Homo sapiens: one gene and its partners. The protein of the gene in region 7 interacts with the protein of the main gene of each other region in a pairwise test. Each region holds a gene or a part of one and is shown on either strand. Other genes may lie near its edges. The genes, in order: TNNT1, LEF1, REL, ETV4, NFAT5, EIF3J and NFE2L2.

The links.
Region 1: the proteins of NFE2L2 (region 7) and TNNT1 interact in binary tests that used the Homo sapiens proteins (3 or more experiments, as listed by UniProt).
Region 2: the proteins of NFE2L2 (region 7) and LEF1 interact in binary tests that used the Homo sapiens proteins (3 or more experiments, as listed by UniProt).
Region 3: the proteins of NFE2L2 (region 7) and REL interact in binary tests that used the Homo sapiens proteins (3 or more experiments, as listed by UniProt).
Region 4: the proteins of NFE2L2 (region 7) and ETV4 interact in binary tests that used the Homo sapiens proteins (3 or more experiments, as listed by UniProt).
Region 5: the proteins of NFE2L2 (region 7) and NFAT5 interact in binary tests that used the Homo sapiens proteins (3 or more experiments, as listed by UniProt).
Region 6: the proteins of NFE2L2 (region 7) and EIF3J interact in binary tests that used the Homo sapiens proteins (3 or more experiments, as listed by UniProt).

The regions. Positions count from the first base shown.
Region 1 is NC_000019.10:55,135,359-55,139,519, forward strand, and holds part of TNNT1 (troponin T, slow skeletal muscle), read right to left. Parts: intron 2,717-4,161; coding exon 2,603-2,716; intron 1,855-2,602; coding exon 1,745-1,854; intron 1-1,744. UniProt on the Homo sapiens protein: Troponin T is the tropomyosin-binding subunit of troponin, the thin filament regulatory complex which confers calcium-sensitivity to striated muscle actomyosin ATPase activity.
Region 2 is NC_000004.12:108,162,259-108,166,419, forward strand, and holds part of LEF1 (lymphoid enhancer-binding factor 1), read right to left. Parts: intron 4,044-4,161; exon of another isoform or gene 4,023-4,043; coding exon of another isoform or gene 4,014-4,022; intron 2,906-4,013; coding exon 2,839-2,905; intron 1,444-2,838; coding exon 1,310-1,443; intron 1-1,309. UniProt on the Homo sapiens protein: Transcription factor that binds DNA in a sequence-specific manner. Participates in the Wnt signaling pathway. Activates transcription of target genes in the presence of CTNNB1 and EP300.
Region 3 is NC_000002.12:60,925,913-60,929,342, reverse strand, and holds part of REL (proto-oncogene c-Rel), read right to left. Parts: 3' UTR 1-3,430. UniProt on the Homo sapiens protein: Proto-oncogene that may play a role in differentiation and lymphopoiesis.
Region 4 is NC_000017.11:43,532,394-43,536,554, forward strand, and holds part of ETV4 (ETS translocation variant 4), read right to left. Parts: exon of another isoform or gene 4,087-4,161; coding exon 4,033-4,086; coding exon of another isoform or gene 4,019-4,032; intron 1,593-4,018; coding exon 1,466-1,592; intron 956-1,465; coding exon 794-955; intron 547-793; coding exon 281-546; intron 1-280.
Region 5 is NC_000016.10:69,572,149-69,576,309, forward strand, and holds part of NFAT5 (nuclear factor of activated T-cells 5), read left to right. Parts: intron 1-4,161. UniProt on the Homo sapiens protein: Transcription factor involved, among others, in the transcriptional regulation of osmoprotective and inflammatory genes. Binds the DNA consensus sequence 5'-[ACT][AG]TGGAAA[CAT]A[TA][ATC][CA][ATG][GT][GAC][CG][CT]-3'.
Region 6 is NC_000015.10:44,557,647-44,561,807, reverse strand, and holds part of EIF3J (eukaryotic translation initiation factor 3 subunit J), read right to left. Parts: coding exon 4,158-4,161; intron 1,560-4,157; coding exon 1,486-1,559; intron 791-1,485; coding exon 659-790; 3' UTR 1-658. UniProt on the Homo sapiens protein: Component of the eukaryotic translation initiation factor 3 (eIF-3) complex, which is required for several steps in the initiation of protein synthesis.
Region 7 is NC_000002.12:177,236,773-177,240,933, forward strand, and holds part of NFE2L2 (nuclear factor erythroid 2-related factor 2), read right to left. Parts: intron 1-4,161.

The DNA of each region.
Region 1 (4,161 bases), on a different chromosome or scaffold from region 7:
CCTGGACTAAAACCTACCTTTCCTTCCTTCCTTCCTTCCTTCTTTTCTTTCTTTTCTTTTTTTTTTGATAGGGTCTCACTTTGTCACCCAGGCTGGAGTGCAGTGACACCATCACAGCTCACCGCAGTCTCAACCTCTCAGGCTCTAGTGATCCTCTCACCTCAGCCTTTTTTTTTTTTTTTTTTTAAGACAGAGTTTCGCTCATGTCGCCCAGGCTGGAGTGCAGTGGTGCCATCTCGGCTCACCGCAACCTCCGCCTCCTGGGTTCAGTGATTCTCCTGCCTCAGCCTCCAGAGTAGCTGGGATTACAGGCGCCTGCCACCACGCCCGGCTAATTTTTGTATTTTTAGTAGAGATGGGATTTCATCATATTGGTCAGGCTGGTCTCCTGACCTCAGGTGATCTGCCCGCCTCAGCCTCCCAAAGTGCTGGGATTACAGGTGTGAGCCGCCGCGCCCGCCCGGCCAACAATACTTTACATGAACCATGTGCACAGGAAGGAGGGCCCACAGCGCCCCCCAGAGGGCTTCCAGGAGCCTGCTGTGCACATCCTTTCCCGTCTCCACACTCAGTGTCCCCACACGGGTAGTTTGAAAGGAGCAAGGTGGAAGTATTTACGCCCTGGGAATGGGCATGTGCTAAATCTAGACATTTTGCCCCCTGGAGAGCAGCTGTTAAACATTTACCATGAAGCCACTTTACAGCACACTAGCAAAGAGTACGGACTATTGCACCAGACTGCCGGGTTCAAATCCCAGCTCTTCCACTTGCTAGCTGTGCAACCCTGGAAGGGTTACTTAACCTCTCTGTGCCTCAGGTTCCTCACTATTAACACAAGGATAATAATAGTATCTACCTCACAGGGTTGTAAACCCTCCACAGGAAGCTGCTGCTGTAATTATTATTTTTTTAAGGATGGGGTCTCACTACATTGCCCAGGCTGGTCTCCAACTCCTGGCCTCAAGCAATCCTCCCATCTTAGCCTCCCAAAGTGCTGGAATTACAGGCATGAGCCACCGGGCCCAGCCTGTAATTATTATTACTATCTCACTGCCCTTTCACAGCTCTGTGAGGTCAATTTTGTGATTATATCCTTGTTCTGCCAATGAGGAATGGGAGCCCCAGAGAAGTCAGATAACGTGCGCAAGATCACAAAGTAGCCGGCAAAGCTGGCACTGAGCCCTGGGCAGGGGCTTTCGGTGCAAGCGGCAAACCCGATCACGGCGCCACTCTGGGGTGGTTGAAGTTTCTGAGCCACAGCCCAGGCCAGAGAACATGGAGAAACAGGCGGGCTCCTGAAGGCAAGCCCCCACCAGCCTGCCGTCCTGTAGCTTATCATGAGAGGCAGGCTGTCTTGGCTATAGATGCGAGGGACTCAGCTGGAAAATTCTCACCCGCATTCCTGGCTTGAATTTAGGTAAAAGGCACAGCCCATCCTGAGCTCCAAGGCACATCACGGAGTTAACAAAATCTCCTAAACTTGGGGGAGGGAAGTCATCTTGTCTGGCTTCCTTGGTAACACCTGTCAGATGCTACAGGCCACGGCAGCCACGAAAAGTGGGTTCAGTGACATGTTTCACAAAGAAGGCAGCAGAGGCCCAGAGAGGGGAAGCCACTTGCCCAAAGTCACATAGCACTGGAGCTGAGACCCGGAGTATCTGCCCACCCAGATCTGGGTGTGAGCTCCTTTATCCCCCTGTCTCACACCCAGGCCCCTACACCCCGAGCCCCCCACAGCACCTACCGGAGCTGTTCCTCCCCCATGTAGTCAATGTCCAGAGGCTTCTTACGCTCGGAGAGGATGCGCACCTTCATCTCCCGCCCCGTCTGCCGCTTACCACGCTTCTGTTCTGCCTGAGGGTGGGGGAGGCGGAACAGTAAACTGGGGGCCACATCCCACAGAGCACTGCCGTGTCGGGACCCACACGTCGGATCCCACAGACCATTTCCATGTTGGGACCACAGGTCTGCACCCCAGGCCCATCTCCTTCAGACCTAGGAGTCCAGCCCCACTCCCTCCTCCCTCAGATTCAGGAGGAGTCCAGACCCCCAGTCCCTTCTCTTAGACTGAGTCCAAGCCCCAGACCCTCTCGCATTAGGAACCAGAAGTCTGGCCCCCAGCCCCTCCTCCCTCAGCCCAGGAGTCCAGACCCCAGCCCCTCCTCCCTCAGACCCAGGATTGCAGGCCCCGAGCCCCTCCTCCCTCAGACCCAGGAGTGCAGGCCCCCAGCCCCTCCTCCCTCAGACCCAGGAGTCCAGGCCCCCAGCCCCTCCTCTCAGACTGAGTCCAAGCCCCAGACCCTCTCGCATTAGGAACCAGAAGTCTGGCCCCCAGCCCCTCCTCCCTCAGACCCAGGCGTCCAGGCCCTCAGCCCCTCCTCCCTCAGCCCAGGAGTCCAGGACCCCAGCCCCTCCTCCCTCAGACCCAGGCGTCCAGACCCCAGCTCCTCCTCCCTCAGACCCAGGAGTTCAGGGCCCAGCCCCTCCTCCCTCAGACCCAGGAATCCAGGCCTCAGCCCCTCCTCCGTTAGGAACCAGAGGTCTGGCCCCCAGCCCCTGCCCCCTCAGAACTCAGACCTCAGGCTCCTGCAGGCTGACTCACCTTGACCAGGTAGCCGCCAAAATGGGCCCCCATGTTGGACAGCACCTTCTTTTTCTTGGCATCATCCTCTGCCCGCTTCTTGGCCTCTTCCTCTTCCTTCCTCATCTTCTCCTCCTGTGGGAAGTAAGGGGTTAACCTCATGGACTCCCCTGTAGGACTGAGGGAGGAGGGCCCTGGGATGTGGAACTGGGGCACAGGGATCAGCAGACCCAGTGCCGCAGAGGCTGCTGGGACATCAGAACCAGCAGAAACGCAGGGGTACCCACTCCCGGCCCTGCCACGTCTCCCCGTGTGACCACCTACAAGTCCCTTCCCCTCTGTTTTTTTTTTTTTTTGAGACGGACTCTCGCTCTGTTGCTCAGGCTGGAGTGCAGTGGTGCGATCTTGGCTCACTGCAACCTCCGCCTCCCGGGTTTAAGCAATTCTCCAGCCTCAGCCTCCTGAGTAGCTGGGATTACAGGCACCCGCCACCGCGCCCAACTAATTTTTGTATTTTTAGTGGAGACGCGGTTTCACCATGTTGGCCAGGCTGGTCTCAAACTACTGACCTCAAGTGATCCGCCTGCCTCGGCCTCCCGGAGTGCTGGGATTACAGGCGTGAGCCACCGCACCTGGCCCCCTTCTCTGGGTCTTAATATCCTCCCAGAAAAAATCGAAATGAAGGAGAAGAAGAAATGCCTGCTTTTTCTGCATGTCTCCACCCTGAAATAGCCGATAGTGAACTCTGCTGTACGACCTCACTCCAGATGCTCAGCCTGTCTGGGCCACAGTCGCCCTTAGTCTCAGGATATGAGAATGTCTGTTTTGAGGGGGTCAAGGGAAGTAACTGGTGATAAGACCAGGGACTGGGGAGATTAAAGAGGCTGATGGCCTTGAGCCTGAGGAAGGGGTTCTGGAATATTGAGCGAAGGCATTACGACATTCGAGAAACTCTTCATTGAATGTTCCAGAAACAGTGGTTTGTCCAGGCTGAGCCCCGTCTCCTTATGGTGGACATGAGGCTTTTTGTACACCCAGCACTCCGTACCTGAATTAGTTTCCTTTCTGTTTTTGAGATGGAGTCTCGCTCTGTCACTCAGGCTGGAGTGCAGTGGTGCAATCTCTGCTCTGTTCACTGCAACCCCCACCTCCTGGGTTCAAGTGATTCTCCTGCCTCGGCCTCCCAAGTAACTGGGATTACAGACATGTGCCACCATTACCAGCTAATTTTTGTATTTTTAGTACAAACAGGGTTTCACCATGTTGGCCAGGCTGGTCTCAAACTCCTGGCCTCAGGTGATCCACTTGTCTCGGTCTCCCAAAGTGCTGGGATTACAGGCGTCAGCCATCGCGCCTAAACTTAGTTTCCTATCACTGCTGTAATTTGCAAATTTAGTGGCAGAAAAACAATGCAGATTTGTTATCTTACAGCTCTGCAGATCAGACATCTGAAATTGGTCCCCCTGGGCTGGAATCAAGTTGTGAACAGAACCAATTTATTCTGGAGGTTCTAGGGGAGAATTCATTCCCTTCCCTTTTCCAGCTGCTGCCTGCATGTCTGGGCCCATGGACCTTCTTTC
Region 2 (4,161 bases), on a different chromosome or scaffold from region 7:
TATAAAAATTAGAAAAAGCTTATTCCTTAGCTGAGAGATCAAATATCCTTTAGCAATTTATTGGAAAATAATTACAATAACATCTAAATTGCAGTGCTCAAAGTGATCATATTTGATATAAGTATCATTTCAACAACTGAAGATTATGTGTAATGATAACCACAAATACTCTTGTTGATAACTGTTGATTTTGAGCCACTATTCTCTGCTAGTGAATCTTCTCACTCCCAGATTTTGTTCACTAAGGTATTAACAACGTTACTCTTCCCAGATGTTTGTGACTGATTTTTTTCAGTTGGTAGAAACACTGGGCAAGTAAGTCAAACACTATAGGTTCCATTTTACAATCTGAGATTTGACCTCCAGGGCTGTCAGTGAGACTGGAACCCTAATCCCCGAGACCCATAGACATGTGTTTTTCATTGGGGGTTAGGTGATAAAGGGAGAGTGGGGCTGGAGAGAAGGTAAATATATTGATGGGTCAGTAAAAAGTCCGTCACCAACGCTGGTGGGCTAATTCTAAGAGAGAACTCCATCACCAGCACATTTTACATCTACATACTACACAAGTTACCATTTAGGTATTTTCTCACTTAAATGAGGTTTCCACTTCCTAAGAGAAATATCATCAAATAAACCTGAAATTCTTTATAATGTTATGCATTTGCATAATGCAGTTATAATACCACTGCATTTTTAGAATTTTAAAAGTTAACTAAACCACAAGATTAAAAAAAAAAGGAACAACTTTCATTAGGGTTATCTTTGAGTGATGCTTTCTCAACAATTGACAATAAAGCAAAAATAACTCATCCCCGCCAAACCGATCCTAAGGAAACATTGGCCGATACAATAAAACAAGACACCATTTGAAAAGCCAAAGTAACATAACAAACATTCAGCTCCAAATGAGCTAAAGTAGCTCTGATTCTAGAAAGCTTGTGGGCATTAAAAGCTATACAGTCCTTACTTAGCTGAAAAAGTAAATCAATTTTTTCCTCTCATCAGCATAGAATGCACAATACTCATAAAATCAGGGATTTGTTGATGTAACTTCACTTGATTTTATAACTTATGATCTGTTACATATTTATTTTAATCAATAAGCCAAAAGCTAAAATTTCAAAGGCAAGACATCAAAGGTAGCACTGTTTTAAGGTGGCCATTCCTCATAACAGCTCTTATTTAGCAACGACTAGTTATATATAATGAAAGCATTACCAATGAGTTTGGAAAAATAAACATTCTGCCAAAATACAAATCAATTTGCACTTCTGAACATAATTTGCAACATCAGCATGTTACTTACTGTTCTCGGGATGGGTGGAGAAAGAGATCCATTTGACATGTATGGGTCGTTATTCATATTTGGCATCATTATGTACCCGGAATAACTCGAGTAGGAGGGTCCCTTGTTGTAGAGGCCTCCATCTGGATGCTTTCCTGGGAAGATCCAAAGAACAATCAATGATGCACTGACTTCCCTTTTATATTACTGTATTTTTCATCTGAAAATCTAATAGTTCTAAGATAAATCAGACCCTACATAAAAGATTTGTTTACAAAATACTGTAACTGGATTATTATGCTCTATTTTAGATTGACAGTATTTATTCTCTTAAATAGCTTAGCAGCAAACCAGATGTTTTAAAAACATGTAGTTCAAACAGTTCTTCCACTACTGACTGATGTTTTTACAAAAATAAGTGTTATCCATCTAACTTAATTTGTTCTAATACTAACAAACTGGACTAAAATATACAGAACACACACAACTTTAAAAATGTAATATAAATATATTAGGCCATCTAGCTACACACAAACACAGAGATTTATACACTTGAAATTATGTTTTGCCTTGTAGACAAACTCAAAGATTCTACCTGTGCTTGCAGATTTCTAGAAAAATTTCTAGATTCTACTGAAAGAGTTGTTATCTAGTATATAGGCAACTATCTAAATTTATAAAGGATTAACTCTGGGAGGCTTAATTTTATGTGCTACACTTAGATCATTTTGCCAAAAAATTTCTGTTCGATATGTGTATTTCTTCTTGTTAATCTGTGTAACTATCTTGTAGCTGAGGAAGAAGCCTAATATATAATTCTCTTCCCTGCTCCTGGTTGACATATTGTATGTAAAAACACTTCATTTCAGTTAGGCCAATTGTTAAGTAATTAATGGAAAACAGATAGGCTGACAAGAAATCCCTAAGGTTACTTGATTCTTTTAAAGTCACAAAGAATTCTCCTTAAGTCTAAATACATATGTATGTAATTTTAAAGTTTTTAGCAAGAATCAGAAATAGGGAGAAAGGGTATCATTTCTGATATGCACATTCCTAATTATAAGTTTTATATTTTTACAAGTTAGATTCTGCTCTGCTCATTTACTGCCGGCCTTTTCACTGTAATAAGGAACAAGAAACAGCAATTTTGCAAGTGAAAATCCACTCAAAACTATTCTGGTTGGAAAATAAATCGATATATACTGTCGTTCTTCTTAATAATATATTAAAAATACTAAAGATCTAAGCTAATTAGGATTTAAGGTAAGATGAGGAAGAGAAAAACTCATTGTAGACATTCCCTCTTCCCAAAGAATCTGGAACCCACCTGAAATCCAAGGGTCCCTAACTCATTCAAAAACAGTTTTTAAATTATGTAATATATATTAGAGGTAAGCCATAAGTTTCCTGCGTTTTCTTTACCATTAAAATAGTGGGCATAGTCTGACCTAGTCCCAGTTTCTTGAACTCAAAAGTAACAAAACACACCTATTTATACAAATTGCACCCCTTATCTGCTAAAGTCAGAAGAAGTAGAATGGGTGTCTTACCGTCATCGGGGTGTTCTCTGGCCTTGTCGTGGTAGGGCTCCTGAGAGGTTTGTGCTTGTCTGGCCACCTAACATCATGAATCCCCACACCCAAAAGAAAGAAAATCACCTTAGAGTTTGTGACAATAATGGTACAAATGTGTGTGCGCTGGTAATTCAAAGGAAGAGGTTTAGGGGCAACTCTGTTTTATACTCTGAGAGACATACGCTAGTGTTTAGTACTGCATAATCCTTTTCTTGTCAACATGTATTTTTGAGTGATTATTATCCACCCGGGACCAAAAACGTATAAATAATAACAAAACCAATAAAAATATAGTTAAATTTGGGAATGATCCACATGCTGTTCTGACTGCTGTTTATTAAACCATATCAAGGCTCCTTGGATGCCTAATATTACAGGAGTAGGAGTTAATGGGGTTGATGGTTTCGATAGCCTCTTCAACCACTGTTCACTTCAATCAGATCTGATTAAAAGAAGGCTGAAATATCATTTTGCAACTGAAAATGGCATTTAAACATAAACAAGCCAACCACTCAGATGCGGTCTTAAGGCAACTGCCCTGAGCGCAGTTACAGCAGAAGCTCCACTCGAGCTTATAACCTACTATGGCTGGCTGAGTGCAGGCTTACAAAAGTAGAACGATTCTGTGGTTAAAGGGAGGAAAATTAGAGAGTCAGGTTATAGACATCTAAAAGGTAGCCCAGTTGATATCAGTTTTGGTAATCACCATCCACCCAGACAGCCTCAAACACGTGCAAATCAGTGGTATTACTCCTTCACCCTCAGGCCTCCTCATGCCCACTTAACACCCGAGTGCTCTCGGATTCGAACGCAGTGTCCTTCACCCGGACCAGAAAATTGTGGAGAATATGAAGTGGGTGGCAAAATTATTTATGGACTAAGGCAGGACTAGCAAAATGGGTAGAAAGAGAGGCTGCTCTACAAATAGGAGAGTTTGGCAAAAAGCCTGTGTTTTGGATGTTATTCGGTTCTCTGGACGTGTGTCCTCCCTTTGACCTCCTTTTCCCAGCACACAGTAGTCACAAATCTTTTACGCGGGGTTAGGTGCACCCTACCCCCGCCCCCAGCCCGCTCAAACTGGATTCAACGGGTAAAGAACACCATTCTGTTCTCTGAACGCAGGCCCCCAGCCTTTCAAAATTCGTACTCACCTCTGCCATTGGGATAGAGAAGGCAGATCTGAGGTGTTCTTAAACGCGCTGTTTAAAACCCAAAATGTCCCCGCCCTCAAAACCACACACTTTCTTTTTGGGGGTAGAAAGATGCCATTTAAGGAAAAAAAGGTATATCCTCCAAGTT
Region 3 (3,430 bases), about 120 Mb from region 7:
TTATAGTCCTTTGGGTATATACCCAGTAATGGGATGGCTGGGTCAAACGGTATTTCCAGTTCTACATCCCTGAGGAATCGCCACACTGACTTCCACAATGGTTGAACTAGTTTACAGTCCCACCAACAGTGTAAAAGTGTTCCTATTTCTCCACATCCTCTCCAGCACCTGTTGTCTCCTGACTTTTTAATGATTGCCATTCTAACTGGTGTGAGATGGTATCTCATTGTGGTTTTGATTTGCATTTCTCTGATGGCCAGTCATGATGAGCATTTTTTCATGTGTTTTTTGGCTGCATAAATGTCTTCTTTTGAGAAGTGTCTGTTCATGTCCTTCGCCCACTTTTTGATGGGGTTGTTTTTTTCTTGTAAATTTGTTTGAGTTCATTGTAGATTCTGGATATTAGCCCTTTGTCAGATAAGTAGGTTGCGAAAATTTTCTCCCATTTTGTAGGTTGCCTGTTCACTCTGATGGTAGTTTCTTTTGCTGTGCAGCAGCTCTTTAGTTTAATTAGATCCCATTTGTCAATTTTGGCTTTTGTTGCCATTGCTTTTGGTGTTTTAGACATGAAGTCCTTGCCCATGCCTATGTCCTGAATGGTAATGCCTAGGTTTTCTTCTAGGGTTTTTATGGTTTTAGGTCTAACGTTTAAGTCTTTAATCCATCTTGAATTGATTTTTGTATAAGGTGTAAGGAAGGGATCCAGTTTCAGCTTTCTACATATGGCTAGCCAGTTTTCCCAGCACCATTTATTAAATAGGGAATCCTTTCCCCATTGCTTGTTTTTCTCAGGTTTGTCAAAGATCAGATAGTTGTAGATATGCGGCGTTATTTCTGAGGGCTCTGTTCTGTTCCAGTGATCTATATCTCTGTTTTGGTACCAGTACCATGCTGTTTTGGTTACTGTAGCCTTGTAGTATAGTTTGAAGTCAGGTAGTGTGATGCCTCCAGCTTTGTTCTTTTGGCTTAGGATTGACTTGGCGATATGGGCTCTTTTTTGGTTCCATATGAACTTTAAAGTAGTTTTTTCCAATTCTGTGAAGAAAGGCATTGGTAGCTTGATGGGGATGGCACTGAATCTGTAAATTACCTTGGGCAGTATGGCCATTTTCACGATATTGATTCTTCCTACCCATGAGCATGGAATGTTCTTCCATTTGGTTGTATCCTCTTTTTTTTTTTTTTTTTGCAGAGACAGGTTTTCCTTATATTACCCAGGCTAGTCTTGAACTCCTGGGCTCAAGCAATCCCCCTACCTCGGCCTCCCAAAGTGCTGGGATTACAGGCGTGATCCATCCACCATGCCAGTGCCCTGCTCCATGTCTCTCTTAACATGGAAACCATCATGAGTTTTCCTGAAGTATTAGGTTAGACGTTGACAACCCAGCTGTTTCTGTTCACTATGGTTGTGAGAAGCCCAGTTATTTAAAAGGCCATTAAGATTGAAAATAGATTTAGAGGTGTAGGTACAGACTGGGAAGGGGCATGAAGGAAATTTCAGGGGTGCTGGAAATGTCCTAAACATGGTGGTGACATGGGTGTTAACATACATAAAAATTAATTAAGCTGTACATTTAAAATTAGTCCCCTTTATGCATTTTACTCTACATGTGTTATCCTTGCAAAGAAAAAGACTGACATCTTTGAGAGCAAGAGTTTTTGTCTTATTCACCTCTGTATAATTTCCAACATCGTGCTTTGCACATTGGACATTCAAAAAATGTTATACAAGATTGACTGCATCAATACTGGAGTGTTGTGTGAGGGTTAGGTGCTGAGGCTGAGAAGTGTATGAGGGAGACCTGAGATTAAACCTGCCACATAAAGTGGAGAGAAGTAGCAAGGTCAGGGCTATGAAATAATCCCAAAAACTTTAGAATTTCTACATAATACAGTTGACACTACTATTCTCAATAGAGCTGCTTTCAGTCTCAAAGGGCTGTGGTATGTGTGCGTGTGTGTGTGGTAAAAAAGGGAAGCAGCAGGTCAAGGAAGAGAAGTGTTATTTCACAAGACTTAAGTAATCTTGTCATTGCTGCTTTTCCTGCCAGAAAATCATTACCTTTCCCTTTAAAAATCATTTCCATATACATTTTACTAACTCCCATGTCAATTTCACCCTTCCTTTTCTAATAATAGCTACTATTTATTCAGCACCAACTAGTATACTAGGGACTATGCTGGGTGCTGGAGTCCCAATGACGAAAGAGACAAACACTTAAATAAGAGGATGTCCGTAATACAGGCATGTACAAAGCTTCACCTCAAGTAAGGAGGCAGGACCAACCTTCATACAGAAGCCCAGCCTTCAAGGATGAGTGTTCTAGTTCCAGAAGAGCAGAGGCAGAGTGGGTAACATGCTAAAGGTATGGAGGCCTGAGAGAATTGTTTTTTTTCAAGGAATGCTAGCTATGTAATAAGGAATAGGGAGAACATGGTATTTTAACTGGAACATATGGAAAAGATTATTACTAGGGAAAAAAGAATGAAGGCCTTTACTAAGAAGGCAGCAGGAATTAAGAAGGGACATATTCAAGAGGAGACAAGCTCAAAAGGACTTGATGATTAAGTATGAGTGTGATGGAGAAAAAGAATACAATACTTTGAGGTTCCTAGTAAGTATCTTGGGTGGCGTGGTAAATGGTAATGCCATTATGGAAGGTAAAGAAGAGAGCGAGCCAGTTTATCAGGACATTCAGGTAGCATGAAAGAAAACTGAACCTGTGGGCTCTGATAAGATCATCGGAGGGCGGGTAGGGGGAAATAGCACCAACTGAGGGGAGGGGTCAAGACTCATGGGAAATAAATCTCAGGGAGGAATCTTGACTACCACAGAAAACCCAGAGGAGTATGCAAAGAGGGAAGTATAGGAGGTTATACATAGGTCAAGCAGTGTGAGGACTGAAAAAAAGACACTAGATTTGACAAGGCGGGCAGTCTCCGCTCATCTTTCCCAGAATATCCTAAGAAAATTGTAGGAGCTAAAGACAGAGATGGCTGGGCTAAGGAATAACTGGGAAGGGAGAAAATGGAGGCTGGAGGCATTTCAGAAGTCAGGATGCAAATGCATCCAAGTGGTAGGAAAGGTTTTATTTGGTCTTTCCTTTTAGGCTAATGAAGACATTTACCATGTTTATACAAAGAAAGGAATCACTAAGTGGTGATGTAAGGATAAAGTAAACACAGCCTGGCAGAGAAAGGAGGAGGGATCCAGTGCACAAGTAGAGTTCAGAAAAAGTGCCTCAGATACTAAAAGCAGGTGTTAAAAGAGCAGGTGAAAGCATGAATATATGTAGAGACAGAGGAGAAACGTTACCAAATTCATTTTAAATTAAAGTCTATACAGGGTCAAAAAATAGCACCTGAAAAATGAAAAATCCATTGGGAATATTCTACACACAGAGGTAGCAGAACCTTAATTCTGCTTACA
Region 4 (4,161 bases), on a different chromosome or scaffold from region 7:
GAGGCTGAGGCACAAGAATCGCTTGAACCCGGTAGGCAGAGGTTGCAGTGAGCAGAGATCGTGCCACTGCACTCTAGCCTGGGCCAGAGCAGGACCCCATTTCAAAAAAAAAAAGAAAAAGAAAGAAAAATAACATTCTTTTGAAATTATGAAGAAAAAAAGTGGGTGGGTGGGTTGGATGTATGAAATGGTAAACAGCAATGTAAAAAAACTCGGGAGACATTCTGGGCTTAACTGAACACTTGATCACATGCCACCCTGCCCCACCCCAGTCTCTTACCTGAGTCGTAGGCGAAGTCCGTCTGTTCCTGTTTGATCACCACCCCCGCCCCTGGGTACCTGTGCCCATTGACCCCACCCTGGTCCACGGCTGGCTGGCCCGCCTGTTCATACAGGGGATCATGGTATTCTTGCTTAAAGCTCTGCTGGGGATAGGGTGGGCAGGGCTCCGACAGCTGGTGTTGGTAGGGGGCTGGGAGGGGTTCCCGGCCCCCTCCCTGAGATGTGAAGGAGTGGCAAATGTCCAGGGGCTGCTGGAAGACGGAGCTGGATGTGGTTGGATGGAGAAGGAAGAGAAGAGAACTTTAAATTAATCCTTCCTCGAGCCTGTTACTCCTAGGCTTTTAGAGTGGGCTCCGGAATGGGGGGTAGGGGGTTGGGGTGTCAGTATTTCTCCCTTTCTATTCCACTGCCCCCTGCCTCTACCACCCCACAGCTCAAGTCTTTATGGAGAACACTCAGGAATTGAAAAAACACCTGGGCCCATGAGCAGTGGGTTTCCCTGTCTCCTTACCTATGTTCCCCGAGGTACCCATGGCCAGGGTGGGGCTGGGAGGTGCCAGAGGATCTCAGGAAATTCCGTTGCTCTGCCCGGGGAAAGGGCTGTAGGGGCGACTGTCCAAGGGCACCAGGGGCAGGGGACTTGATGGCGATTTGTCTGGGGGGGTCATAGGCACTGGAGTTGAGAAGGAGACAGGGGTGAGGGGGCAGAGAAGCTGGAAAGCATCTTTGAACCCTTCATTCCTAGGAAAGCGAGGTCACAGGGATTACAGGAGAAGGAAGGATAGAGGGGGCTGAGAAGGGAACGGCAGGAGCCACAGACTCAGCCCTAGCCAATTCTTTTCTTTTTCAGAGACAGTCTCCCTCTGTTGCCCAGGCTAGTCTTGAACCCCTGGGATTCATACAGGGGGGATTTGTTGCTCAGAGCAATGGTTTAGGTGGGACAGTGGGCCTCTTGGTGGAAACAGAATCTGCTCTGGCCTCAGTATATATTCCTGAGGCCCTCTGCTGCGTTTTCCGTCTATTCAGAGGAAATCCTTAGCTGTATTGCTTCCTTACAAGTGCTAGAAAATCCTTTCTGTTGTCTAACTTGCATCTCAGCTGCTGCCTCTGCTCATGGGTGCCCCCTGCCTCCCTCCTCTGGAACCCTTCTCCTACCCTTCACCAGGTCCAGGCTGGGGCTCACCTGGAGTAAAGGCACTGCTCGCCATGGTGGTAGGGGAGTGGCGGCTTCCTGCTGCAGGACAGGGCCGGGTCTGTGCGGGGACTCTGGGGCTCCTTCTTGATCCTGGTGGTGGGGCTGTGGAAAGCTACTGTGGGGGTGGAGGGGACAGAGCAAGGCCAGAGCCTGTCACACAAGAGGCAGGCAGGGCTTCTGATACCTTCTGAGCTTTGAGGACCAGCTGGGTGACTGGTACAGCCTCCTTCCCTCTCTGGGTATCAATTTTCTGAGACCCGCAGTGAGACAAGAACATTTTGGCTATTTACATTATGTCTAGTTTATACATCAGACTAGTGTCTGATTATTGACTAAATAAACCATCTAAAGTTCAACATTTAGGCTGGGCACGGTAGCTCACACCTGTAATCCCAGCACTTTGGGAGGCAGGAGTCCAAGACCAGCCTGGCCAACATGGTGAAACCCTGTCTCTACTAAAAATACAAAAAAAAATTAGCCGGGGATGGTGGCGGATGCCTGTAGTCCCAGCTACTCAGGAGGCTGGGGCAAGGGAATTGCTTGAACCCAGGAGGCGGGGATTGCAGTGAGCCGAGATCATGCCACTGCACTCCAGCCTGGGTGACAGAGCGAGACTCCGTCTCAAAAAGAAACAAAAAACAAAAACATTTAATGCAACCCCAGGCCCCAGAAAACACTTTCAAGGAGTGAGCACCTCCAACCTAGGGCCTGTAGTTTTCCTGAGTGCCCTGGAAAATTCCAGGGGAGTGACATGTTTTCTTATTTGAGGATATAAAGAATCTTTCTTGGCCGGGCGCGGTGGCTCACGCCTGTAATCCCAGCACTTTGGGAGGCCGAGGCGGGCGGATCACCTGAAGTCAGAAGTTCAAGACCAGCCTGACCAACATAGAGAAACCCCATCTCTACTAAAATACAAAAAAATTAGCCGGGCGTGGTGGCACATCCCTTTAATCCCAGCTACTCGGGAGGCTGAGGCAGGAGAATTGCTTGAACCTGGGAGGCAGCGGTTGCAGTGAGCCGAGATCACACCATTGCACTCCAGCCTGGGCAACAAGAGTGAAACTCTGTCTCTAAATAAATAAATAAAAGAATCTTTCTTTTTCTGGTTGAGGTTGGATATTGGCCCACTTGAATGTCAGCTGACTAACATTATACACATGCTCCTACTTATCTGTGAAGAACACTGGCCTTTCCTGTGGCCCCTGCGGGGTTCCCAAACTCTGGCCACGAGGCTGAGCAGCAAAGAGTTGGTTCCAAGCCGGTGTGAGATTCAGTTTTAACCGCAGTCCAGTCAAATGCCGTTTGTAACCAACTATTCTCTGCTGTTTTTGATTCTTTGTGCCCCATTGTTTCACTGGTGAAGACAGTTGACAGCAAAGTATCTGACATTAAAGCAGGGTTTGTTTTTTGGTTTTTGTTTTTTTTGAGATGGAGCCTCGCTCTGTCACCCAGGCTGGAGTGCAGTGGCTCAATCTTGCCTCACTGCAACCTCCGCCTCCCAGGTTCAAGCGATTCTCATGCCTCAGCCTCCTGAGTAGCTGGGATTACAGGTACACGCCACCATGCCCGGCTAATTTTTGTATTTTAGTAAAGACGGAATTTCATCATGTTGGCCAGGTTGGTCTCAAACTCCTGACCTCATGTGATCCACGCGCCTCAGCCTCCCAAAGTGCTGGGATTACAGGCGTGAGCCACCACACCCAGCCTAAAGCAGGGTTTCTCAACAGTGGCACTACTGACCTGTGGGCCAGATAGTGTTTTATTAATAATATTGTAAGGAGCGGTCCTGAGCATCATAGGATGCTTTTAGCAGTATCCCTGGCCTCTCTATCCACTAGACACCAGTAGCACCCCACCCTCAACTGTGACAACCAAAAATGTCTACAGATATTACCAAATGTCTCTTGGGAGGCAAAATTGTCCCCAGTTTATGGAAGTGACTTAGAATACTAGAACTGGGGGCGGGCGCACTGGGCTCACGCCTGTAGTCCCAACACTATGGGAGGCCGAGGTGGGCGGATCACAAGGTCAGGAATTCGAGACCATCCTGGCCAACATGGTGAAACCCCATCTCTACTAAAAATACAAAAATTAGCTGGGTGTGGTTGTGCATGCCTGTAATCCCAGCTACTCTGGAAGCTGAGGCAGGAGAATGGCTTAAACCCGGGAGGCGGAAGTTGCAGTGAGCCGAGATTGTGCCACTGCACTCCAGCCTGGGTGACAGAGCAAGACTCTGTCTTGGGGGGAAAACAAACAAACAAACAAACAAACAACACTAGAACTGGACTCTGCTGAACTGGCCCAGGCCCCTCACTTCAGATATAAGGCAATGGAGAACCAGAGGGATAGTGTCTGCTCTAAGGTCACACAGCAAGAACATGTCAAGCCCCAGATTTCAACCAAGGTTTTCATTCCAGTTATTGCCTTGGTCTTTAAGATCAAACCCCACTGTGTTTTAGGAGAGAACAAGCTGCTCTCTTGTGATTCTCTATCCTATGACTCACTTCCTGCCATCCTCCACTCCCTATACCCTCTCCCCAGGGACCTCTACTCACGGTTTTCTGAATGGAAATCAGGAACAAACTGCTCATCACTGTCTGGTACCTGAGCTGCAGAGAGAAGTCAGAGGTGAGTTTGGGGCGGAGCCCTGGTTGTCCCCTGGGAGGCTCCATTATTACAGCCCT
Region 5 (4,161 bases), on a different chromosome or scaffold from region 7:
TGCTAGTCTTTCTTGCAACCTCTTTTTAAATTTAATACGATGATTGCCTGACAATGGGAAAAGGGTCCTGGCTAATTAATTAATGTTATAATACATGGCCATTAAATGATGTTTCTGGTAACCCCATAATTAACATGTGACACTCTTAATAAAATAAGTAAATAAAAATTATGCTGTTACAATTATATTCAAAGTAACTTGTGTTACAAAAATCCTGAACAAAAGTATACATCACTGATTTTCTATTTTTCAATTCTATTTTTGTATTTTCCATCTTTAAAGAACATGGTTTATATATTTTTTTTAAATAAAATTGTTTGCCATTAGTAAGTTCAAATTCGAAGGCTAGGATTCCTTTTTGAAGTGCCTGGGAAAAAAATTCAGCTGCAGAGAAAAGGCACCATTTGTTGTACATTCTATAATGAAAACTATTCATTTTGGCAAATGAAAAACTAAGATAGAAATGAAACTGAATGAATCATTCTAGAAATAGAGAAATATAAGATTATAGAAAAATCATAGATAAAACAGGAAAAATAAGAGTATAAACAAATTGGAAAAATAGATAAATATAAACAATAGATTTAACAATTTTAATGATTTTAAAAGCATGAGTTAAGAGATTATATATCAAATGAAAGAACTGGTTAAATAAGAGCTAAATGCTGATCTGATATAATCTTTGTTATTTATTTATTTATTTATTTATTTTTGATACAGAGTCTCACTCTGTTGCCAGGCTGGAGTGCAGTGGCATGATCTCAGCTCACTGCAACCTCTGCCTCCTGGGTTTAAGTGATTGTCCTGCCTCAGCCTCCTGAGTAGCTGGGACTACAGGCGCGTGCCACCACACCCAGCTAATTTTTGTATTTTTAGTAGAGACAGGGTTTCACCATGTTGGCCAGGGTGGCCTCGATCCCTTGACCTCATGATCCACCCTCCATGGCTTCCCAAAAGTGCTAGGATTACGGGCATGTGCCACCGCATCCGGCCACAATCTTTGTTTAAATTAAACATTTAAGACCGGAAGATTTTTAAAAGAAAATGTGAAATATGACAATGAGTTAAGAGAAAATAAACTATGATTTTTTTTTTACTACTGCTAATCTATTTGATATGGTACCATCCAGAATTATACTTCATAGTGCAAAAATGGAAAATCCTAAACATAGTAGCAATGTTTTATTGACTTTATAGAATATTTCTGATTTATATTTCTTCCTAGGGCCCTTGTTATATCATAGATCATAAATGCCTATAATATTTTATGTACAAAGATACCTTTTTGGAAAGGATTTTTTGAAAACATTTAACATGAAAAATAATCTATTGAATTCTTTTCTTGTTTAGTATCTAATAATCTCTGTGGATCCATGTCTAGTAAACTAAAAGTATTATGGAAATAATGAAGTTCAAACATGTCAAAAGTCATACCTAGTTCATCCCAGCTTCTTGTCTTTAGATCCATCTCTTTCTGATTGCTTACCACCTGTTTTTGTGTCCCTTCCTAAACTCTGCTTTCATTATTTTCACTCAATACTGGAATTCTATTGCTTATTTAAAATAAAAGGATATAAATTCATATTCTAATCCAGTGGTTCTTGGCCTGATTTTAATTTACTCTTGACTCTGATTATTCCAGGAGTCCCCTAAAATTTCAAAGTGGTAGTACAGAAAAACATTTCCCAGTGTGATTAGTATTATATATAAAAAACAGCCACTTTTTTTTTTTTTTTTTTTTTGAGATAGAGTTTCGCTCTTGTTGCCCAGGCTGGAGTGCAATGGTGCAATCTCAGCTCACCGCAACTTCACCTCCAGGTTCAAGCGATTTCCCTGCCTCAGCCTCCCAAGTAGCTGGGATTACAAGGGCGCACCACCACACCTGGCTAATACTGTATTTTTATTAGAGATAGGGTTTCTCCATGTTGGTCAGGTTGGTCTCGAACTCGTGACCTCAGGTGATCCACCCACCTCGGCCCCCCAAAGTGCTGGGATTACAGGCGTGAGCCACTGCGCCCGGCCAAAACAGACACTTTTTATATGAAAAAGTTGACTCCTCAGAGTATATTTTATATTAAGAGTAACAGGTAACTAGAAAAAAATAAAGATTATTCAGTGGCATAGGATATAGACCTTTTAACTTTAGAGAGGTAAAAGACATTTTTCAATAGAAATGTTGCTTATTAATTTGTATTATTGTCTTTTCTTGCTGTTGCTAAGATTTTATTTCAAGTTACGCAAAGAAGGTTGCTGTGTCTTCTGTTTGCTTTTGTGTTAATAAAAGTCAAGTTTAAATAAACTAACAGAGTATAAGACCAATGATAATTATGTACTTGAGTGAAAAGGTAGAGATTTCCTCTATGAGTTAACTACAGATAATGGATCTAGCTTTCAGAATAAATAAACTTGATGTAATAAAGGATATATATATTTAATCATTTGAACTAAACATTTGTTACATGAGAGTTCAGTTACTTTTATTTGTTCTTAATAGCTTTTGAAAAATATATACTTTTCTCTTTTTTTTTTTTGGTTTTTGAAACGGAGTCGTGCTCTGTCACCCAGGCTGGAGTGCAGTGGCACAATCTTGGCTTATTGCAACCTCTGTCACCCAGGTTCAAGCAATTCTCCCACCAGAGCCTCCCAAGTAGCTGGGATTACAGGCACGCACCACCATGTCCAGCTAATTTTTTGTATTTTTTTAGTAGAGATGGGGTTTCACCATGTTGGCCAGGATGGTCTCGAACTCCTGACCTCGGGTGATCTGCCTCCCTCAGCCTCCCAAACTGCTGGGATTACAGGCATGAGCCACCGTGCCCAGCCCATTCTCTTTTATTTTTAACATTTATGTGGTAAATAGGTAATGATCATTATTGCTTCCCACCCATGAATGTTTATCACTTCTTTTTCATTCAGGAAACACTGTGATTAGTCTTTTACTGAATTTGGTATTTAGTTTTGAAGATGAGAGAAGAACAGAAAAGTTTCTAATAGTGAGCTAAGTTGTTGATTATGCTTATTTATTTATTTATTTATTTAGAGACGGAGTCTCTCTGTTGCTTAGGCTAGAGTGCAGTGGTGCGATCTGGGCTCAGTGCAACCTCCGTCTCTTGGGTTCAAGCAATTCTCCTGCCTCAGCCTCATGAGTAGCTGGGACTACAGGTGCACACCACCATGCCCAGCTAATTTTTGTGTTTTTAGTAGAGACAGGGTTTCACCTTATTGGTCAGGCTGGTCTTGAATTCCTGACCTCAGGTGATCCGCCCGCCTCAGCCTCCCAAAGTGCTGGGATTACAGGTGTGAGCCATTGGGCCTGGCTGATTATGCTTATCTTTATAAAATTAGTTTTACAGGAGGCTGAGGTGGGAGGATCATCTGAGCCCAGGACGTCAAGGCTGCATTGAGCCTGCATGATCATGGGATCATGCCACTGCACTCCAGCCTGGGCAACAGAGCAAGACCCTGTCTTAAAAAATAATAATAATAAAATAAATAAATAAAGCAAGAGAAGAAAAAAATTTAGTTTTAATAAAAAAAACTGTACCTGAGGCAATCTTTGTAGGACATGCTAGTCAAAAGAATAAATTCAGTGTTAGTAATAATTGAAAACCTTTTTTGAGCAATTTATATGTCAAGCAGTTTATGTTTAACACCATTTTACATATATTTTTCACATTTAACTCTTAGAAAAATCCTGCGATGTAGTACCAGTATCCCTATTTCGTAAATGAACAAACTGAGGTACAGAGGGATCTACTAATTTTCCCAAGGGCACATATCTCGTGGATGAGGCTGGAATTTGAACTTCACCAGTTTTACCCCAGAGCTGTGAGATTATATTGACTGTCTTAACAGTCAGTAAGAACATTTGAGGCCGGGCTCGGTGGCTCACGCCTGTAATCCCAGCACTTTGGGAGGCCGAGGTGGGCGGATCACGAGGTCAGGAGATCAAGATCATCCTGGCCAACATGGTGAAACCCCGTCTCTACTAAAAAAATACAAAAAAATTAGCTGGGCGTGGTGGGCGGGCACCTGTAGTCCCCTGAGGCAGGAGAATGGCTTGAACCCGGAAGGTGGAGCTTTCAGGGAGCGGAGATGGCGCCTCTGCACTCCAGCCTGGGCGACAGAGTGAGACTCGGTCTCAAAAAAAAAAAAAAAAAA
Region 6 (4,161 bases), on a different chromosome or scaffold from region 7:
ATAACTAGACAGTCTTTGCACTCGAGAGATTCCACAACATGTAATGCAATAATGGAAAGGTTTACCTTCTTTAGCTTCAAAGTTGGAGGGTTTTGGTCATTTTAATTTTATATCAAACTAGTGCTTTTCAGCCGCAGTATCTTCACTCTGAGATAAGCAGTCTTCTTCACAATGTATTTTTAATATCCTCATGTTCAATTTTAAGACAAAGCAATTTTAATACTAGGTGCACACCACATGCCCTTGCTGCAAACTGCTTTTCTTGACAAGTTATGAAGTAGTTCAAGGAGGTATGGTTAAGGCTGTATTACTGAATGGTGCTGGTAAATACTACACAATTTTTTTTGTCACGTTGCAACCTTTTGTTTCCAATTTAGTGACTGCTGCTATGAAATCAGATAGCAACAACGACAACATTATTAGGTTTTGAACTATGATTTAGTAGCAACTTAGGTTCCCAATTTTAACCCCTTGGCAGCAAGATCCAAGTTCCCTCATTTGCACATTAGCACCTAAGTGTCAAGGGGTTAAATAACCAGCACAAAAGATACTGCACTTCTGATTGTAGCATTTGGCAGAACTGAAAGGAAAGGAAGTTGTGCTACATGTTCAAGGGATTGTGGGCAACATAAAGATGACACCAAGAAAAGATAAAATGTCACATGAAGTCTTCATAGTCTTGTACATATCCTCCATCATAACCACCATAATCTGCCAGATCATCTTTCATGGTGGCTTTTAATCCCCCTCCAGGAACCACACCTTTCTTCTTCTTTTTGGCTTTGCTTTGCTAAAGATGAAAGAGAGTTAATTCATGAACCTTAGTGTGCTATGGGCATCTTATCTGGTACAGCAACCCTCATAAACAAACACACAAAAACCTTTGGTCCCAGAAACACTAGTTCTGTAAGGGACATCCGAGCCTACATGTTTTGGACCTGAACAGGTCTCCCAGAGTCAGTCTCTCCAAAACTTGATCTGGGTCCTTGGTCCTGCTCTGGATACCTAGCCCACCAGCAGGGGTTATAAGTTATTGGTAGACAGCCTTAACTTCACTGAAGCAAATTTAGAAAAGTGTGGATAAGTACCCCCCAATTTAAAATCACAAAGCTCTAACCTTTACTTGACATACTTCTCTTACTTTACTCTTATAAATACTCTGCAAAGTGAGTATTATTGTTCCTATTTTAGAAGGGAGAAGACTGAAGCTTAGAAAAGCTGATTTACCTATACCTATTAAGTAGCAGTGCTAGTATTTGAACCCAGTCTGTGATTTCAGCAATTTCTATTAACTCAGAAAAGGGGAACATGTCTGGAAACAAAAGGACAGTAATAGCACCCATACTCCTCTTCTAGTCTAACTTAAATGGTATTAGTGAGTTGCTTGACTTTTAATTAGGACAGGCTCCTATTATATTTGTTGACTGTTAGACCTATAACCCCACTCTAATTTAATACCCATTTCCCTACACAGCTTGCTCTTACCTTTTCTTGCTTCTGTTTTTCACTGCAAAGCACAGTCAGTGAATTGGTAATTTTTTTCAAGTCATCAATTTCCACTTAAAAAAAAAAGGGCATACCATTAAACTTGAATTTTTAAGCATTTTGAAAAGTTAAAGCTAAATATGTACATTCCATATATATCTATATATCCCAAAATGTACATTCCAAAAGTGTTATGAGAAATCCAATTTGTTCATTGTTAAACTTCAGTAACTTTGAAAGGACCATGAATTTCTCCTCTTTAAACGTAAGGTGGCCGGGCACAGTGGCACATGCCTGTAATCCCAGCATTTTGGGAGGCCTAGGTGGGTGGATCACTTAAGCCCAGGAATTCGAGACCAGCTTGGGCAACACAGCTAGACCCTGTCTCTTGAAAACAAAATTCATTTTATTTATAATGACGACCTGTAATCACCAACACACCATTGCTCAACCAAAGAGAAACTGTCTTTATAGCTCACAATGCTCCCTACTATCCTTCCTCAGTCTAAACAAATGGGGGAGGATAACATGCCCTTCCATTAACACACCCCCAGTAATCAGGGAGAACAGACAAATAAACATGAAATGACAATTACTATTATTTTTTTTTTTTTTTGAGATGGAGTCTCACTCTGTCACCCAGGTTGGAGTGCAGTGACGCGATCTCGGCTCACTGCAACCTGCGCCTCCCGGGTTCACACCATTTTCCTGCCTCAGCCTCCCGAGTAGCTGGGACTACAGGCGCCCGCCACCATGCCCAGCTAATTTTTTGTATTTTTAGTAGAGACGGGGTTTCACTGTGTTAGCCAGGATGCTCTTGATCTCCTGACGTGATCCGCCTGCCTCGGCCTCCCAAAGTGCTGGGGTTACAGGTGTGAGCCACCGCACCCGGCCTATTTTATTTTTTTTTTTGAGACAGAGTCTCGCTTTGTCACCAGGCTGGGGTACAGTGGCGTGATCTCGGCTCACCACAGCCTCCACCTCCCAGATTCAAGTGATTGTCCTGCCTCAGCCTCCCGAGTAGCTGGGATTACAGGTGCGTGCCACCATGCCCAGCTGATTTTTGTGTTTTTTTTTTTTTTTTTTAATAGAGATGAGGTTTTACCATGTTGGCAAGGTTAGTCTCAAACTCCTGACCTCAGGTGATCTACCAGCCTCAGCCTCCCAAAGTGCTGGGATTACAGGCATGAGCCACCACGCCCGGCCAGAATGACAATTCTTAAACCTACAATGACAACACCCTATCCCATGATGTCTCCATTTTCTTGCACGGGAACTACAATGAGAACAGTGACCATCTCTATGTCCTACCAAGAAATAGTCCTGTTCAGTGGACAGCATTATCAGCCTTATAAAAATATGAAGCTGGAAAGAGACACCAGTTTTTAGCTACCAGAAAGTGTTCAGTTTTGGTTAGAGAACACCTCCAAAAACCAGAAAAAAATTAGTACATGCAGAATAAAATATCAACTCTGGGCACATTACCAATCAAATGTAGAACCCTCAGCTTAGTGATAATTTATCAAAGAAAACCCAATTCATTGTGTAGGATTCCTTTTTCTCCATCTTAAAAACTGCAAATAGGCTGGGCGTGGTGGCTCACACCTATAATCCCAGTACTTTGGGAGGCCAAGGCAGGGAGATCACCTGAGATCAGGAGTTCCAGAGCAGCCTGGCCAACATGGTGAAACCCCGTCTCTACTAAAAATACAAAAAATTAGCCGGGCGTGGTGGCAGGCGCCTGTAATCCCAGCTACTCAGGAGTCTGAGCAGGAGAATTGCTTTTTTTTTTTTGAGACGGAGTCTCACTTGGTCACCCAGGCTGGAGTGCGGTGGCACGATCTCAGCTCACTGCAAGCTTTGCCTCCCAGGTTCATGCCATTCTCCTGCCTCAGCTTCACCTTGTTAGCCAGGATGGTCTACAATCTCCTGACCTCGTGATCCGCCTGTTTTGGCCTCCCAAAGTGCTGGGATTACAGGCATGAGCCACTGCGCCAGACCAGGAGAATTGCTTTAACCCAGGAGGCAGAAGTTGCAGTGAGCTGAGATCGTGCCTCTGCAATGCAAGACTCCATCACAAAAACAACAACAACAAAAAAACTGCAAATACTAGCAAAACCAGTCCCTTCCATACATTCCTGCTTCACCACCCATGGCTGTCACTCCCATTCACCCTGCCCTGAAATGTATGACTCCTATCAAGGTGTGGCACCACAACCACGGACCCAGAGAATAGGTGCCAGCCCTGTCACTCAACTTGCACCCTGTCTAATTCTGATTTGTAAAAGACAGTGGCTGAAGTCTCACCCAACCCAAATCCTACAGTGCCAGAGACCTTTTCCCTCAAAAGATACTTCCCAGCCCCTCTCAAGTGATAATCAGATAAAAAGAATAGGCCAGTGTTTTATTAGCTGCTTTGCTGACAAGCCCAGGTATCTCTTAGGGAAGCCATTGTAAAACAAGAAGTCCTCTTACCCCTACAAACAAACAAAAAGATCCAGCACTCAAATTCACTGTATCTGCAGAACAACATTCACAAGGTAATTGCTAAAAACAGCAAATCATGAGTCTGTATTATAGTATCCTTGAAAATAAAAAATAACCTTCAACCTCCTGAAGAGAACATCCTACTAAAAATCTACCCAGAGGGGCTAGAAATTAGAATTACTTACATGA
Region 7 (4,161 bases):
GTAAATGCTGTGTAAATAGTTGTTATACTGTATTTTATGTGTGTATTGTTATTTTTTCGGGTTTTTTTTCCACTTTTTTCCTTTTGAAATTTTATTATTTATTTACTCATTTTGAGATAGGGTCTCACTCTGTCACCCAGGCTGGAGTGTGGTGATGCAATCATGGCTCACTGCAGCCTTCACCTGGGCTCAAGTGATCCTCCCACCTCAGCCTCCCAAGTAGCTGGGACTACAGGCACATGCCACCAAGCCCAGCTAATTACTTTTTGTAGAGATGGCGTCTTGCCATTTTGCCCAGGCTGGTCTTGAATTCCCGGGCTCCATTGATTTTCCTGCCTCAGCTTCCCAAAGTGCTAGGATTACAGGCATGAACCACTCCACTGTGCTTGGCCTTTTTCCAAATATTTTTGAACCAATCTGCCATTGGTTGCATCATGGAACCAGAGGCTGCATGGGCCGACTGTATATACACTTGGCTTTGGAATCTTGGTAGTATGAAGCGGCCAGTCTGCAGGTCAGATTAAGTCTGTAGGTCACCTAGATCAGTTTCCTGGCCAAGAGCAACAAAATAGCAACCACAGAGCATTCAGTCGACTATACATGGCTATCTTCTCAGGGGGATTCCCACTAAAATAGGTATGAGAATAATTTCTATTTTAAAAAATGATTTGTTTCCATTCTGATGGACATGTTTACCCAAAGGTTATCATGGGAGACAGAAAATTCAAAGGTATAGAGAAACCTACTTTATTTTATTTTTTTTTGAGACGGAGTCTCGCTCTGTCGCCCAGGCTGGAGTGCAGTGGCACAATCTCAGCTCACTGCAACTTCCGCCTCCAGGGTTCAAGCAGTTCTCTCACCTCAGCCTCCTGAATAGCTGGGATTACAGGTGCGTGCCACCATGCCCGGCTAATTTTTCTATTTTTAGTAGAGACAGGATTTCGCCATGTTGGCCAGGCTGGTCTCGAACCCCTGACCTCAAGTGATCTGCCTGCCTCGGCCTCCCAAAGTGCTGGGATTACAGGTGTGAGCCACCACGCCCAGCTGAGAAACCTACTTTAAAATTCTGATTAGCTTGGGCCGCTTCTTCTCAGTAAATCTAGATACATAGCAGGGTATCCTGTCTAGACTTTCTGCAAACTGGAGCTATCTGCCCAAGCAAGGTATTAAGTGTTCAATATGTTCCCATCTTCTAGGTACTAGCACCAAAAATGAAAGGAATGCATGATCCTGCGATCTTAATTGAACTCTGTAAAATAGGCAGTCCATGTTCCCACCCATCTCAAGAAGTGATGTGCAAAGTGTGCAAAGCTCTTTGCAAAGTCAATCAAAGAAACTCAAATACTTGTCCCTGTACGTGGGGAAAAGTGTACTTTGACACATCCCTGCCTCACCCTAGACTTCCTGGGCCTGAGGTTTTTTCTTGTTAAGGAGATCCCAGGATAAAAATCAGTAAAAGGTTGTGACTTTTTCATGCAACTGAAGCAATTTAGGTTGCAAACATCTTCTGCTCATAAATCTGACTTGCAAAGTATCCTTACAACCAACCCTCATGAGCTGGAAGAAAATATTGAATGGAATTTATAATTGTCAGTGTCAATCATGCCAAGAATTGAAATAACTATTTAATTTCCTTTCCCCCCCTTTTCCTTCCCATCAGATGATAATATTTGAGGGGTTTGGATGGCTTTAGCTATACATTGTTTAATTATTCCATCCTACCCAAGCATACAGATGTTAGTGGATCAAATGAGGCACGTGAAAAGTATCTCTCTATAAATGTAAAATATGCAAATGTTTACATGTTGACAGTGATAGGCTCTACTACTTGCTGTATAAGCGAGACCAAAGTCCAGGCCAATGGATAATAATGAGGTTGTGGACCTAACTAGGGGGAGCCTAAAATAATGTTGGGACTACCTAGATGGTCAGAAAGAATGAGCCAATTAACTTCTAAAATCATGGACAGCTTCATTGCTTGGTTCTTCCTCAGGGCAGGTCTGAATTAGACTACTATTAACATGTTGTAATAAAAAAGGATTTTGATCTCAGAGATTCTGAATTATTTACAAATAATAAAGCAAATTAATAAGCAAATTAGAAGTTTTAGTGGATATTGCTCTTGATGGTGGTTTTGTTACTGTTGGTGGGGGTAATGGTGATGGCAGTGGGCACGCCCATATACATTTGCATACACTCTAATATAAATGTTTACAAACATACACACACACACATTCAATTGCCACTCAATTCCTGCTGTGAGTACCCTTCAATGGACAGCTCCAAACCAATTCAATGTTTTTTATTTGAATTTCCCTTGACATGACCAGAAAAAGACATCTTTATGAATCCTTATCAACAAACAGGAAAAATAAGACATGAAGCATTATTTAGACTAGCTCTTGAGCATCCTGTTCACGTTACCTGAAACAATGCTGGACCCTGGGAGACTAAGCAGCTCCTGCGGCCCTAGCTTACTGTCTCCACCAAGAATGCCACCAAATGACATCTAATTGCTCTTCATTAGGCTGGGGGACATTCAGTGCAATCGTAATAGGACCAAAATAGGTTTCAAAGTGTTCTGAAAGGTTTTCCTGTGTATTTTTAAGTTTATATTTATGTGGCCAGGCATGGTGGCTCACGCCTATAATCTTAGCACTTTGGGAGGCCGAGGCGGGCAGATCGCTTGTGCTCAGGAGTTCGAGACCAGCCTGGGCAACATGGTGAAACCCTGTCTCTACTAAAAATACAAAAATTAGCCGGGCGTGGTGGCATGTGCCTGTAGTCCCAGCTACGTGGGGGACTAAGGTGGGAGGACTGCTTGAGCCCAGGAGGTCGAGGCTGCAGTGAGCCAAGATCGTGCCACTGCACTCCAGCCTGGGTAACAAAGTGAGACCTTGTCTCAAAAAAAAGTTTATGTAATGTTTTTTCTTGCTATGAGAGGTCTCAAAACAAAACAAAACAAAACTGCTTCATAAAAGAAAAAAGCTAAATTTGAAGCAACTATTTTGGATTCCCAAAAACAGACATCTTGATCAAATTTAGAATGCAGCAACAATAGGTTTATTGTTATGGCCTTAATGTCATACTCTGTGCTACTCAGATTTTCACATCTGTTTCAGCAGGCAAAATCCTGCAGAGATTTGATACTGTATGAAACATTCAAAGCTTTATGTTAAAAAAAAAAAAAAAAAAACAGCAGAAGTTAACTGAAGACTCACTGTTGGGGACCACAAGCTCACTACTGTATTTTGTGCTAAGCTAATATGCACCAACCATTTCCTGTAAGGAGCCGTGTGACTGGGCACATGATTTATTCCACAAATGACCCAGCTCTCTGCAAGGCTCACACATCATCTAAGAGGAAATAATCGTCTGGGTGGAGCCCATAACAAACAAGAACATGACACTGGACAGGAGGAAAGGGAAGTGCCTAAGGAAGAACTAAAACTGCTCTTCTGCACAGAAATCCAGGGCTTTGAGGAAGTGCAAGTCCCCCATGGAGGAAGGCCACAGTACAAAGTGTTAGATAAGTAGGGTTTGGGTAGAGAGAGGAAAGCAGGTAGATGGGTTGCACAGCACTGCACAGATACTTTCTTACAACGGGTGAGAAAGCTTCCCAAGGGCCATGCGAGCACTGGCCAGGAGCCTTTGCATGGCATATGGAGCAAATGCCGTCTGCCACTTGGTGTCTGAATTTTTTTTGCTCTTGTCCTTTAGTGATTCCTGAGTGTGTTCCAAATTATGTTGCTAGCTTGGCTTAGACAAAAGAAGACAATTTGATAAGAAACACAAATGTTGGACAATTCATGTTAAATCACCATCTGGCCTAACAGAAATATTCATGTTTAAAAAATATATATCATCATTTGCCAACTGGGTAATCTGTTACACATTTTAGGGAAATCTGAAGTTGGACAATTAACTCATACCACTTTAAAACAAACATCTTTGTACCAGGATAAACAAAGAAGAAAGGACTTGAACACAGAATCCATATTAAATATGTCTTTTGCAAGTCAATTTTAGTGCCTTGAATAAACCAGCATCTATCATGCTTAGATGATCCAAAATATTGGAAAAGATAAAGCAAAGATAATACAATCCCTGTCCTAAATTAAAGCTATTCAGTAAACTGAGACAAAGTATTTGAAATGAAAA